Linked DNA regions of Homo sapiens. The protein of the gene in region 1 purifies or fractionates together with the protein of each later gene. This does not show direct contact. Each region holds a gene or a part of one and is shown on either strand. Other genes may lie near its edges. The genes, in order: DPYSL5, PHAX, SAMTOR and RIMS1.

Region 1 (4,529 bases):
CCACATCCCGGGCTGCACTGGGTTAGGGATGCTTTGAGGTTCCTCTGGGGGCTCCCTGCTCTCTGCTTACCAAGCAGGCGGGAGTTGGGAAGGGGAGAAGGAGTGCAGACTCAGGGGTGGGGTAATCCAGAAATGCATCCCTCAAAGGCCAGCCTGGCCTGGTCCAGGCCCTAAGCTCTCTGGGGAAGGACGGCAGGGAACCCCGCCTTGGCGGGCTCTGCGGGTCCTGCGCCCGGGTAGATTTTGCTGAGATGGGGAGAGGGGACCCCCTCCACGCCCCCGGAGTAGTGAACACCATTTTGTTTGAAAGTATCCTGCAAAGAGAACCACCTCACGAGGCCATGGCTGCCAGGGGACTCCTCTCCCCACCGGATCGCCGGGGAGCCCGGGGAGGGAGGGATTCTGCAGCTGCAGCTTGGAGGTCCTTGATGCTGCATTTTAACGCGCATCGCAACGCCTTTGGAGTGACATTAAGTGCAAAGAGGCAAATGACTAATCCAAACTATTATTACAACTGCAGAAAATAACACAGATCAATGGCAAAGGCTTGAACCGGGATTAGCTAGGGAGGTGGGACAAACCGGGGATGATCCTTCCTCTCCTTTTTTAGATTTGTTTATTTTGGTAAATTATGTATGTATTTAAACATGAAGAAACAGGTGAAGCGAATGTAAATTGGGTTATAAATAATTTCCAAAGGCTTCGCTGTCCCTTGACAGAAGCCAGAAATAAGACAGGCACTGGGCCTGAGCGCTCTGGACAGGGAAGCACCCGCGTGGCGCTGGGCAAAATCTTCTCAGTGGAGAGAACGCACTCCGGGTTCGAGACCTCCCCGGGTGCAGATGCGAACTGCGGTGGCCCCAAGTGGCCGTCCACTTTGTTCATGAGAACAGTTTTCCTATAACGCCCACCCGGCCCTTTGCATCCCGCAATCCCGCGGGCGTCGGAGCGGGTCTTGGCGCGAACCAGGCGGCCTCGGCGGGGTCCTGCGGCGGAGGGCAGCGCGGCCGCAGCCCGGGAGAGGCGGCCGCGGCATTGTTTCAGCCCCTGGGGTGGGATCCAGCTGGGGGAGGGGAGGCGGGGTGTCCTCCGGAACCGCCCCCGGCCCTCCCTGGGGACCCGTGCCTCAGCGCGTCCAGGCTTTGTGGTGTCCTGAGTCGCCATGGAAACCCGAGGGAACGCGGAGCCGGGTGCTAGGGGGGTCGGTGAGTTCTCCGGCCGCGCCCTCCGTCCGCTCTCGGACCCCGGCCCTGCAGCAGGGCCTGCCGGGAGTTGTAGTCCCCAGGCGGCGGCGGCGCGCGGCGCCAAGGATGCGGGACGCCGCCTGTCCCCGCCTCCCCTTAACCTGCTAGCTGAGGTGGGGAGCGGCGGGAGGAGCCGGCCGCGCGGTGATTGGCGGAGGCCGCTCCCAGCCCCCGACACGCGCCCCTCCCCCGCTCCCCACTCTGGACTCCCGCGCTGGGCGCGCTGAGGCGGCCCCCGAGCGAGCGCGCGTGCAGCCGCCGCCGCCCCGAGCACCCGCAGCTCCGGCGCCGCGGCGAGACGGAGACGGACCGAGCCACGGGCCCCCGCGGCCGCAGCATCTCGGAGGAGTGGGTGATGGCAGGGGGGTCGGTGGGCTTACCCCTCCCGGGCTAGGACATCCTCCTCTCCCCCTTCTGTTTCTGCGTGAGGCGCACAAAAGGGCGGGGAGCCGGGTGAGCCTGGGGCCCGGCCGCAGGGGACGCGGCGGGAGGTGTGGTTTGGGGTTGGGAGGTGGCCATCGGGGCTAAGCCGGGGCGCTCTTGGGGTCCTCTTTGTACGCCCGCGAAGCGCCGTGCCGGGCCTTGCTCATAGTAAGCGTTTAATGCGTGCTCGCGGGGTTGCAAAGCCCTGGGGTGAGGAGGCGGCTCGGCCGAGGGGTTTCGCGCCTAGCACGCAGTGGGCCGCTTTCCTAGCCGGGCGCGGTGCAGTGGACCGCTGGAGGGCTGGGCGGGGGCGCCTCTGGCCGGGGGCCAGTCCTGCCGGTCCCAGGATCTGCGCTGTCCCCGGTCCCACACACCACCCAGATACACACCCTCCGTCCTTCTCGCCTCCGAGCTGGGATCTGCCCAGCCTGGACCCGACCCGGCGGTCTGTTCCACCGCCCGGCTAACGGAGCGGACGCCTGCAGAGGACTCGCCCGCCGCCTCCGAGCCTCCCGCCTGAGCCACAAAGGCCTCCTGCGGCTGCCCAGCCCGGAGCGGGCGCCGAGCCGGGTCCCTCGGCTGGAGCCCAGCGCGGGAGCCCGCCTTGCAGCATCGATCTCAGCGGGCACCGACGTCGACGCCCCGGGCCTGGGGACGGGGCTGTAGTCTGAGCTGGAGAGAAGCCGGGAGAGGGCGAGGGGAGGCCTCGGTTGAGAAAAGATGGGGATGGGGAAGGCTGGGGAGCTGGGTTAGGACAGGTAGTGGGTCTCGGGGAGCAGGGAGTGGGAACTAGGGTTTGAGGAGGAAAGAGAAGGGGCGGGGGCGGGTCCGAAGAACGAGGGAAGGAGCTCGGTGCAGGTGGCGCCCGGCGAGGCTGGTTCTGCTGAAGAATGGGGAGGGGAGGAGGGATGCAGGCGGGTGGAGGCCGCCTGGGTTTGAGGAGGGAGGACGGGAGCGAGGAGAAGACCCGCGCTGTGCGGGGGAGGGGGGCCTCCTGGGAAGGGGAGCCTCCCGAGGAGGGAGGGGCAAGCAGCTGAGAGGCGGTCTCGGGCCCGAGGATCCTCAGCTCCAGGCGCGGGGCCCCGCGGCCCAGGTGGCCGGCTGGGCGTGGCCCTCGGACCGGGGTTAGGGACCCAGGATGGCAGATCCGGGACCGGGCTGGGCTGGCTTGGTGAGGAGCTTTGTCTCCAGGCTTGAAACCAGCCGGTAGCGACTCGCTTAGGGTTTTGTGATCTTCCGCGGCGCCCACGGCACGCCCTTTTCTCGAGGAGCTGAAAGGCTTTGCCCAGCAGCAGGTGCTGCCAGGGAGGCGGATCTCCCTTCGGGGAGACCCGGAGAACAATAGCCGACCCTGGTGTCCATCCGACGACAAACCAGGGCCACCCAGGACGCGAGGGTGCAGTTTTCTGGTGCTGGGAATACTCCCTGCGGAACCTCCGGGCACGTGCTGGCTTTGGGGTTTTATGGGGGCCTGGCCACGCCGGGAATCCCGTGTGGGAGGCGCTCCCCCGGCCTGGGGGCCTGCAGACAGCCACCCCCCCACTCCGGCTCGGGTGCCTTCTGGTGCAGCGCCGCCGCCCGCCCCGCGCTGTCCACCCGCTGCCGAGACGCGGCGTGGTTAGCGGCGCGGAGCTGCCGGGCGGCGACGCAGGTGCCAAAGACTGGAGGTCGCCTCGGTGCAGCGCGGGTTCCCCCGAGCAGCGGCTTTGTCTGCCGAGGCGGCCGTAGTCTAGGGGCTGCAGCTGTGCTTTCTCAGGGGGAGCCGTAAGGGCTGGTGCGGATTGTGGTCAAATTGCGGAGAAGCGGGTGGAAATGATCCCGCAAGGGTGAGGCTCTAGGTTTGGGAGCCGCTGCTAGGGGTCCAGTGCTTTTCTTTGCCAGTGACCACACCCAAGCCAGTGCGTCTCTTGCAGACTTCGCCCATATTGTCTGCTGACCTAAGACTGGGGTAGCTCTGTGATAGGCGCTGCTTGCCCGTGGGAAAGCAGATGAACCGAATGGAAGCTTAAAACAGGCTTTCAGCAGGGCTTTCCACGCACTCAGCCTCTCGCCCGCCGTCTAAACACCTTGCAAGTCACCGCTGCAGCGCCTTGACATGTGAAGTGACACCCAAAGCCAGAATTCTGTGTTGCACTGTTGCTTTGATAACTGGTTAGATGACAAGTTAAAGGTGAATCTTTAGCATAAAGTTATCATTTTAAATTGCCATTCATTAAAAAAAAAGGCAGGAATGTTTTTGTTCCCAGACTGGGCGATACTTGGCATTGTAGAACTCATTGATGCCACTTACATTTGCCACTAAGTTAACTGAGAACCTGTTGGTTCTCTTAACCCAGCCTTGAAATCTCAGGATTTGCTTTCTTAACAAGATTAGTGTGTAAGGTGAAGGACTGTGCTGTGGCTGTTGGCTTTTGCCCAGGACAGATGATAGCTGTCAAAGTGAAGGCCTCTTGTCTGAGTGTCCTTTCTGGCCATAGGGAGTCAGCAGTAGGCTATGTCTTGCTGGTTTTAAAGGATGGTGTTTTGAGGAGGTGCCTCACAGAATTTACAAAACTGATCTGGAAGGACTAGCTGGAACATTGCTCATTGGTTGTTTTTAACTATATTTTAACTGAATTATATATATGTATATATTAATATGTATATACACACATATATATATACACATACTATATTTTACTAAATTATATATGCATGTGTGTATTTATGCATACACACAAACATGGATTCAGAGTACATAAATACTAGGAATCTCAATATTAGAAACCTAGAAATCTGACAGTGAAGGTTTTTTCTTGTAAGAGAGCTCCAATGGGAAACATGTTTTCATATTATTACCCAAAGGGAACAATTTCAGGAAGG
Region 2 (3,097 bases), on another chromosome or scaffold:
GAAACTTTTGCAAGTGACACGAATGAGGCCTTGGCCTCTCTTGATGAGTCACAGGAAGGACATGCAGAAGCCAAGTTGGAGGCAGAGGAAGCCATTGAAGTTGATCATTCTCATGATTTGGACATCTTTTAAGTACATTTTCAACAGTTTGAGGACTAAGCCTTTCTAAAATAACATTGTAATAAACCATTTTTACTGAGATTGCAACGTTTTGCACTGATAAACATGAGAATCTGGAGGAAAGACAATTGTTTTCTTGTTTAAAATATGTGTGGAAAGGAATGCAATTGATAGAACATTTAAAGATATATCTGACAAAATACTTAAGAGTATATAGCACAGGATTTAATTTCTCAATCTGTTGCATGTGCTAATTATGAGTATTACTAGTTGATAATCAGTTTTGTCTAGGTCATAACATACCATTTGTAAGTTTGTTTGCTTTTTCAGGTTTATCTTTGCAGTGAATTATGCTTTGCTTTAAAACATTCCGCTAAAATCATAATGGGACATATAAATTATTAAGCTGTTAGAAATGCATTCAAATTTGTTTTTTCTGTGTTCTAAGAACTCAGGCAATTTTAAGGATAAAAACTAACATTGGCCAGGCACGGTGGCTCACGCCTGTAATCCCAACACTTTAGGAGACCAAGGCGGGCAGATCACTTGAGGTCAGAAGTTTGAGACCAGCCAGGCCAACATGGTGAAACTTCATCTCTACTAAAAATACAAAAACTAGCCAGGTGTGGTTCTCCATGCCTATAATCCCGGCTACTCGGGAGGCTGAGGCAGGAGAATCACCTGAACCCGGGAGGCAAAGGTTGCAGTGAGCTGAGATCGTACCACTGTACTCCAGCCTGGGCGACAGAGCAAGACTCTGTCTCAAAAAAAAAAAAAAATACAATTAAGAGGTGTATACTGATGATTCTTCCCACTCATTTGTTTGTCCAGAAGTAAATAAATGTCGGAAGTTTTCCAAGTAACTATTTGTTTTTTGGGGGGTTTTTTAGTTAGAGTCTTGATCTGTCACCCAGGCTGGAGTACAGTGGCAGGATCTCAGCTTACTGCAGCTTCCATCTCCCAGGTTCAAGCGATCATGTGCCTAAGCCTCCTGAGTAGCTGGGATCACAGGTGTGTACCACCACGCCCAGCTGATTTTTGTATTTTTAGTAAAGACTTTCGCCATGTTGTCCAGGCTGGTCTCGAACTCCTGGCCTAATGATCTGCCCACCTCTGCCTCCCAAAGTGCTGGGATCACAGGCATGAGCCACCGAACCCAGCCTTATTCTGCTTAAATTTAACGTGTTTTTTGACTTCTTAATTAACTTGGTCATATACTAAATGTGATCTCCTGTGGATTACCACATGCATTAAAAAATTTTTCAAGCTGGGCCTAGTGGCGCACACCTGCAATCCCAACACTTTGGGAGGCCAAGAGAGGAAGATTGCTTGAGCCCAGGAGTTTGAGACCAATCTAGGCAATGTAGTGAGACCCTGTCTCTAATTTAAAAAAGAAAAAGAAAAAAACATTCCCAGTGGCAGCCTGCCTAAGACTGTCTTACCTTATGTTAAGGAAGTCAGGTATTTAAAATGTTACATATGCCGGCGCAGTGGCTCATGTGTGTAATCCCAGCACTCTGGGAGGCTGAGACAGGTAGATCATTTGAGGTCAGGAGTTCAAAACCAACCTGGTCTACATGGTGAAACCCCATCTCAACTAAAAATACAAAAAATACAAAAAATTAGCCGGGCGCGGTGGCTCACACCTGTAATCCCAGCACTTTGGGAGGTGGAGGCGGGTGGATCACAAGGTCAAGAGATCGAGACCATCCTGGCCAACATGGTGAAACCCTGTCTCTATTAAAAATACAAAAATTAGCTGGGCGTGGTGGCGCATGCCTGTAGTCCCAACTACTAGGGAGGCTGAGGCAGGAGAATCACTTGAACCCAGGAGGTGGAGGTTGCAGTGAGCCGAGATCACGCCACTGCACTCCAGCCTGGCGACAGAGCGAGACTCCCTCTCAAAAAAAAAAAAAAAAATACAAAAAATTAGCCGGGCATTGTGGTGCATGCCTGTAATCTCAGCTATTTGGGAGGCCGAGGCAGGAGAATCACTTGAACCCAGGAGGCAGAGGTTGCAGTGAGTCGAGATCGTGCCACTGCACTCCAGCCTGGGTGACAGAGCAAGACTTTGTCTCAAAAATAATAATAGTAAAATGTTACATGTGCATGAAGTTTTAAATTACTCATTTTTATTAATGAAGAAAATAAGGTAGTTTAGACATTCCAAGAGTTAACTATAGTTTACAAAAATATATTAAGCAAAAATATGCTTGATATATTAAGCAGAAATGTTGTATATTAAGCAAAAATGTAAAATTCAGCAATTATAAACTGTTCCTTACAGACAGTGTACTTGAAGTCTTTTGGTAGTTCTGAGAATGTGGTCATTGAAGTTGGATCTAAGAGGAAAGTGGTTATCGGTTGCTTTTTATTTATAAAGGATGCAAAAATAAAATTAGATTTTTGGCAGTCCTTAATGAGCTTCAAGTGATTATATTTTTAAATCTTGAATGTTTTTTCATAAAAATGCTATAGCCAAGAAAAATATTTTTAAAAGGTAATTGGATATTGACCCTAAGACAATTTATGGGAGGTGATTTTAGAAATAGTACATTAAGAAAGATAATTATTCTGAATACTTAAATGCCACATATTAATGTAAATATTGCCAATTTTTCTAGCAAAAGTTATGCCTTTTAAAGGGCGTTGATGCCTGAAGCTACTTTATCTTCATCAAGATTGTTTCTTCCCCACACCTTCCTGGTTTTTTAGCAATAGTTGTTTTTTTTTTTCTTTTTCTTTTTTTTTAAGACGGAGTTTTCACTTTTGTTGCCTAGGCTGGAATGCAATGGCACCATCTCAGCTCACTGCAACCTCCGCCTCCCGAGTTCAAGCGATTCTCCTGCTTCAGCCTCCCAAGTGGCTGGGATTACAAGCACACGCCACCACACCCAGCTAATTTTTTTGTATTTTTAGTAGAGACAGGGTTTCACCATGTTGGCCAGGCTGGTCTCAAACTCCTGACCTCAGGTGA
Region 3 (3,406 bases), on another chromosome or scaffold:
TTCCTTTCTATGAGCTAGAAGACCCCATATTACTTTTAAGTTAATATAGAAGCAAAAAGCCCCTTTCAGTCCAGGCTCCTAAACTAATTGCTTACACCAATTGGAAATACTAACATGAACTCAGTACTGAAAACCTGGTTTGCATAAAAGAAATGCAGAGGTTTACAGAGTTTGCTATTTTTTTCTACTTCTCAATTTTAAAATTTATTCTTATATAGAAAGCTTAAAGTTTCATGCAGAGTGACTCATGTCATAGCAGAAACTACTGTTACTTTAGCATTTAGCACTATCATAGAAAGGTACCTTTTTCTCTTTAGTGCTATTGTGAAAACAAGCATAATTTGCTATATGTTTTCCTTTTCAACTTTTCAGTGTTGACTATAAACCATTGAATGGAAAACTTTAAGATGTAGAAAGCTGTAGATTGCACTTTGATGACTCACAAGTTAAATGTGATACAGAAAAATAGATCGGTTAGTTGTTTTGTGATGCACTTATCTTTTTCTTTTTTCTAACTAAAATTGTGATGTTACAGAAAGTCATTTTATGTTCCTTTTTTGTCTGATGATCCAATATTTACTGAACTTTTTGTAATTGGTGATAATTCTTTTTATTTCTTCCTTATATTAAAAGCTCATTTGACAGCATCAGACATTGGGGGAGAGATGTCCCCCAAAGTGTGTATTCTAATTTTATTAGCCCTATCCAATAAACACCATTGCCAAAGTAGTATTTTCATAACTTTCTTGTTGATTTGGGCCTTGGTGTGAAGTATATTTACCTGAGAGTTCACTTTTACTTTTCTTAAACTTAGGCTTCATTTACAAAATGTTTTATTTAAGCAAGGAACAATGTAATACTCAATAATGACCTAAAACACCTTTTTGAAAGGGTTTGCACTTGGAAGAGAGTTTATGTTCTGTTGAAACCAACTTTGATAGGGTCCTCACCTTTCCGTTAAGGAGGTGCCGCACTACAAGTTTCAAATTATATGGAAAAACCTAAAATTAACCCTCTGTTGGTGATCTCATAAAATGGTTTTGACCTTTTGGTATCTTAATTTCTATCTAAACTTTATCAGAAAATTTTCTTTGAATATATCAATTAGTTGGCTGTGGGAATTTTCCCTTTCCACATTAATAAATGCCTTTCTGTGTTTCTGAATCAGAAGCAAATGATTAGGGAAAAATATATGTCCAAACAAGACAAGATTAGTTTAAACAGTTAAGAACATTTAGTCCACATTGTCTTGTCAGCCAGCAATTGTCATGGAAGCTATCATTTTTAAGAGTGCCACTGTGTGGATTTTTTTTTCAAGTGGTTATTACATTAAAATTACCTCATACTGAGGTTTTTGCACTGAAATATCACAGTTTCAGATTTCATGGTTAATGTTGTGCGTATGTTTGTATGTTTTTAAAGGAAACTTGCATTTTCAATAGTTGATCCTAAATTTCATAAACTGCACTTCTTTACTCTGGTAAAGCTGATGTTTTTGTGCTTATTGTGAATTGCCGTAGTACCTTTGAATGTCAAACTTTATTTAGAAATATAAAACTTATCCTTTATGATATAAATGGTTGAGTGTATGTACCCAGTATTTCTAATTAAATTTCACATGCTAAATTAATGAAAGTAACAAGATTGTAATTTTTTAAAGTCAGTTGATTAAATGCAATAAATATTGGTTGCTCAAATATGCCACAAATAACTCGAAATTTTTCATTTACTTTCAACAGCATAAGATTCTTTAATATTTAGGATTGACTGTTCTTTCCAGTTAAGCACTGAAGGATTATGTCTTGTAGCTTCCCCAAGAGAAGGGGAAGGAAAAAAAAGCACTATGTTAAGGATAATACAGAACTCTTTTGAACTATTTTGGTAGTACCTTTTACCATACTGTTTGCTTTTTGATTTGGGTAAATATCTTAAGAGCAAAGAAAACAATACACCAAATGAAAATGCTTTGAAAGTAAATGAAAACAGCGCTTTTGAAAGGCTGGTATAGTATGACCCTGGAGTCAGCCTTTGTGTTACAGCGAAAATGTTGGTGCTATAAATTCTGATTGTTTACAGATGTTGATTCTGCTTATGCTCCAAAGTGTGCATGATGTATTTTACGTAGTACTCTGAGGAAGTCTCTTTATAAAACCTACTACCACTTAGTATAAATTTGTTTGAATTTATATCATTTGTTACTGTAAATTCAGCTTATTCCAATTAGGTTGGCACAGATTTAAACTGATACACATTCCACAAAAACCAATTCAGTGTATAAGTATTGAAGTATAAGCAGTCATTGCAGCTTGATGCCAGATCATGTATGTAATAACAAGTGGAAGTTAATAGGGCCTTCTAATACTGTATGGGTACTCCTAAGAATTATTTCATTTTGGATATAAAGAAGTTATGAGGCCTCCTGTCACATTCACAGCTGGTTCTCCAAAATAATTTGGTTGTTTCAAAAACAAATGGTAATCATTTGGTTGGATTCTTCAGTATCATGACTAGATCATGTGGTTTTACCATAGTTGCCAAGTGGTGGGAGGTAGCATACCTGAAAATGTACGTGTGTGTTTGTTGTATTTTTTCACATTTTGTGAACAAAGCACATTTATTAAAAATTTTAAATTTTCTAGTATTCTTTGTCTGTTACTTGTAAACCGAAAGTTCTGTGGTCTTTGATGTATCTCACTAAGTGATTTCAGCATTGGGAAGCAATTTAGAACTTGAGTGACTTGTACAATTTTCCCACTGGGTTTCATTTTTGTTAAATCCCTTAATGTCATAAATTTATTCACTGAGATCCAGAGAACTCAGGTGACTTCCCATTGTCATGTTTTGTCATGTTTATGGCAGAAGCAGGGCAACAGCATAAATTCTACTTTATTGTATGTCAACCATATCATATTCTTTTTTTTTTTTTAAGTAAGCTACATAATTTATCAGCTCTTTCAGGACAGCAGATGTCTTCCTCATGATATGAAAGGTTTTTTGTTGTTGTTGTTTATTAAACAAATGTTTGAATTCTGCCATGTGCTATATGCTGGGAAAGCAGCAAGGATTGGAGTGATCATTGTCCCCTGCTCTCATGGAGCTTATGACCTAAGAGTGAAGACAAGCATGCTACATGTACTTAGTATCTGTATCCAAGAATGATTACCTGCTGATGCTACAGTTTTGCCCCTGCTTAAAATCCTTAATTCACAGAAGTAGAACAGGAAATAAGAAAAGCTTTAAACACAAAACTAGCAAATTACACATTGTGGATAAGAGAGATGTATTGTTCATTCCTCTAGGAAAGTATAACCTAAATATAAATTCTGATGTAAAAGCAGAAAAAAAAATGGATTCAAGCTTTTTGTTCCGTTTTCCCACACTTTCTGAGCACTATGCAGCAATGCTA
Region 4 (3,387 bases), on another chromosome or scaffold:
CAGCATAGTTGCTTTGAGCCCTTCGAATGTGAAGCAGAGAGAAGTCCAGGTAATGTTGCATTTCTCTATCTCTGCAGGTGATTGTCTGGGGAGACTATGGCAGAATGGACCACAAATGCTTTATGGGTGTGGCTCAGATCTTGTTGGAAGAACTCGACCTGTCCAGCATGGTGATCGGATGGTACAAATTGTTCCCACCGTCCTCACTGGTGGATCCCACACTCACTCCCCTCACCCGGCGGGCTTCCCAGTCATCTCTGGAAAGTTCAACTGGGCCTCCCTGTATTCGATCATAGTGAACTCATACCAGAGTCATTCCAATAAAACTCTACTTTTCAGGATAATAATCTGAACCAGATATTTCATGATCGAAAGCATTGTTGGAGACAGACAATCAACTTGTGTTTTGCCTGTAGTAGTTTTTCAATAATATGTCCCAATTGTTATTTAAAACATGGCTTCATATGACAGAACAAGGCAATCTATCAAATTTACAGGAAGAATCAACATGCTGGTGAGAGTCACTGATGCTTCTAACAAATAGAAAAAGAGGAAACTTTAAATCCACGCATACACGTACACACACACATGCACACACACACACACCAAATTGAACAAACTGGAAACTCTCACTCTGTGAAAAGTTGTATTCTACACATTTCTGCACAGACCACAAGCAGTGTTATTTCCCTGATGTTTGAGTTGTTTTGTTCTTTTGTGTGTTTTGTTTATTTGTGTGTTGTTTGTTGGTTTTCGTTTCTTGAGTTTTTGTTTTGTTTTCACCACATCTGTTATTTCCACTAGTTTTTTTTTGGCTGTGTCATGACAGGCCTCATGATGCTAACAGAGATTCTTCCCTTCTTTTTTCCAAAAGCACCAAAAAAAAGGGCTGAAGTAGTCTCTGTAGCATCTCCCCAAAGTGTTAAACAGCTACATAAGGTGAAGCCAAGGAAGGGTTTCACTAGCTTTCATTTTATAATTATTTAAAGTCTTATGTGTGGATACCCAAGAGACAAAAAGTTATCTTCCAAAATAAATAATCACAGAAGTACTTTTTTAATGAAGAGCCTATCTGTTTGCATTCTAGAAAATTAATTTATGGTTTCCATTGTTTTGCATGGAAGACTTTTAAAGAAGTCAATCTGCAACTAATGCTGGGGACTAAAACTAACTGCATAATTGTACTTTGAAAACACTCCTTGTAATGCCTTTTTCTTCCTGATATTAAAAAAATGCTCATGTGTATAAACCATACTTTGACTTCCCAAAAATGGTGACTAGGAATGGATTTGAGCCTAAGACACTTTGAGCTATGCCCAGGCTTCTCAGCCATACCTCAGTGTAGACACATCCATCTGCCCTGGAAAGAGCATGGTATGAGCTGTTCAATATTCCACTGGAAATTCCAGTTGAAATATTCTGCACTAAACTATTGTTTTTATTGAATTTTAGTTTACATTTCTTTGAGATTGATGCAAGCACAAAGCTTGATTTTTTAATGCAAAGTATCTTACTTTTTGGGGGGAAAATAAACAAAATGAACTTTCAATTTGCATTTTCATTTAGTTTCTCTTGGCCTTGAATTTCCCTTGTGACATTCTGTACATGTGCTACAAACTGCAGTCTCTGCAGGTGCATTGATATGTTCTCCCTCCTTTTATGAGTCACTCCACTTTTGTGATTACACAAATAGAGCAGCATGACTTGGAACTGTTCAGAGCTGCATGCACATTTTGTAAAAAAAAAAAATTTTAAAAAGAAAAGAAACAAAAGGTTATTTAATAATGTATGTTAGTTCCACATAGGCCAGCTTGTATGTTGCATGTACTTGTACAGTTTGCTTGTTAATTACTATACCGAAATAACCAAGAAATCTAAGCCATCCACTTTTGTTATAGACATTTTGCAGGTTTTAGCCAGACTCAGTCTCTGGGTCTGTGGTGAAATGTCTATAGATGGACTTTATTTTTTACCCTCCGGAAAACGTGATGTAGTACGGACCAAATTCCTTCTAATAAATATTTTGGTGTAGATTCCTACTGTGGGGCTGTAACACATGTAGACACTGTGTACACACTAGGTTTTAATTCATAGACATACTGCCTGCACCAAGTGAATTATTTATTATTATTTACACATGCCAGAATTATCTGCCCATCATTCCACAGGGCACAGATTGACCACTGCTCACCATGCTGAGTAGGAGGAACTGAAGCATTGGTGCACTTCTACTAGATTCCGTTCTGTCTTAGTGGCCAACAATCAACTGATTATAATTGGGTAGTATCTTTCTATTTTGACCACTTGTCTTAACACTCCCCTGTGCTTTTAAATGAAATTCCAATTCATGTATGTAAACATGTTTAATAAAATTTACTTTTCATGTCAGTCAGTAGCCATATGTGTTCTATGTCTTGCCAGATTTCCATTGTGGGTTCTATGGTGCAAAATGGGAGCCAGGCCATGGGAAGGGGAGGCTGGGGTTTGTTGTCTGCTGCGGGCATTTGACTTGACTTGTCACTGCACTATATTATGTCTTAATCGATGGCCCAAAGGGTACTTTGCATCACATACAAGTTTTCACTTCGTCAGCCTGTCTAAGTGAGCACATGACTATACTTCTGAAAAGTGGCATTATTAAAAATAATAAATCTCAGTAAGAATCAAATGGAAGGTTGTTTTCTGCTGCTGTTTGAATGTGCTAATAAAAGAGACAACTCTATTGTCCAATTGCCAAATTATTTCAAGTTACGTGACATATCAAAAAATTGATTCCTGCGTCTCTCGTCATAGTATATTTCCTCTTTCCATCTTTTTCTTCTGAACCCATGACTAATTTATATAACTTTGGTTTAGAGGAGACCAATTTAACAAAAAATAAGCACTACATTTACACTGAATTATCTTTAATAGAATCTTAGATAATAAAAGTATCTTCAAATATAGATAGATATCCAAAATAATATATTCAAAGAGACATTATTAACTTTTTAGGTTATTTTATTATTTTTTCTTACCTGAAAGTGTGCTCATGTATTTAATAATCATCGCCTCTCATGAAACACTTGGTAAGCACTACTTTCATCTTGCATTGTAGTAAAATAACTTTTGTGATCTAGTCTTGTCTTTCTAAGAGCTCTTAACTTTTTATAGACCACGCTGGCTTTAACTTGTAAAGCAAAGTAAACACAGTTACATCAACATAAAATTTGAGGCAATAAAGAGTTTGGAGACATGAATGCATCAGTTATTTATAGTTTTTAAACAGTTGACTGAATTTTACCCTATTAAATCATCCATTTGTTTGGTCTACAAGACACAAGATTATCTGTTAGGCTGGGTCAGTAAGAGGCAAAAACAACTGGTCAGTTCAATTTAAAACAGTCA

Evidence for each region.
Region 2: the proteins of DPYSL5 (region 1) and PHAX fractionate together in Homo sapiens (co-fractionation; one large-scale study listed by BioGRID). This does not show direct contact.
Region 3: the proteins of DPYSL5 (region 1) and SAMTOR purify together in Homo sapiens (co-immunoprecipitation; one large-scale study listed by IntAct). This does not show direct contact.
Region 4: the proteins of DPYSL5 (region 1) and RIMS1 purify together in Homo sapiens (co-immunoprecipitation; one large-scale study listed by IntAct). This does not show direct contact.

Annotation. Positions count from the first base shown.
Region 1 is NC_000002.12:26,846,663-26,851,191, forward strand, and holds the start of DPYSL5 (dihydropyrimidinase-related protein 5), read left to right. Parts: upstream 1-1,469; 5' UTR 1,470-1,592; exon of another isoform or gene 1,593-1,835; intron 1,836-2,743; exon of another isoform or gene 2,744-2,838; intron 2,839-4,529. UniProt on the Homo sapiens protein: Involved in the negative regulation of dendrite outgrowth.
Region 2 is NC_000005.10:126,624,713-126,627,809, forward strand, and holds the end of PHAX (phosphorylated adapter RNA export protein), read left to right. Parts: coding exon 1-132; 3' UTR 133-2,540; downstream 2,541-3,097. UniProt on the Homo sapiens protein: A phosphoprotein adapter involved in the XPO1-mediated U snRNA export from the nucleus.
Region 3 is NC_000007.14:112,818,382-112,821,787, reverse strand, and holds the end of SAMTOR (S-adenosylmethionine sensor upstream of mTORC1), read left to right. Parts: coding exon 1-44; 3' UTR 45-2,641; downstream 2,642-3,406. UniProt on the Homo sapiens protein: S-adenosyl-L-methionine-binding protein that acts as an inhibitor of mTORC1 signaling via interaction with the GATOR1 and KICSTOR complexes.
Region 4 is NC_000006.12:72,400,419-72,403,805, forward strand, and holds the end of RIMS1 (regulating synaptic membrane exocytosis protein 1), read left to right. Parts: intron 1-77; coding exon 78-296; 3' UTR 297-2,727; downstream 2,728-3,387. UniProt on the Homo sapiens protein: Rab effector involved in exocytosis. May act as scaffold protein that regulates neurotransmitter release at the active zone.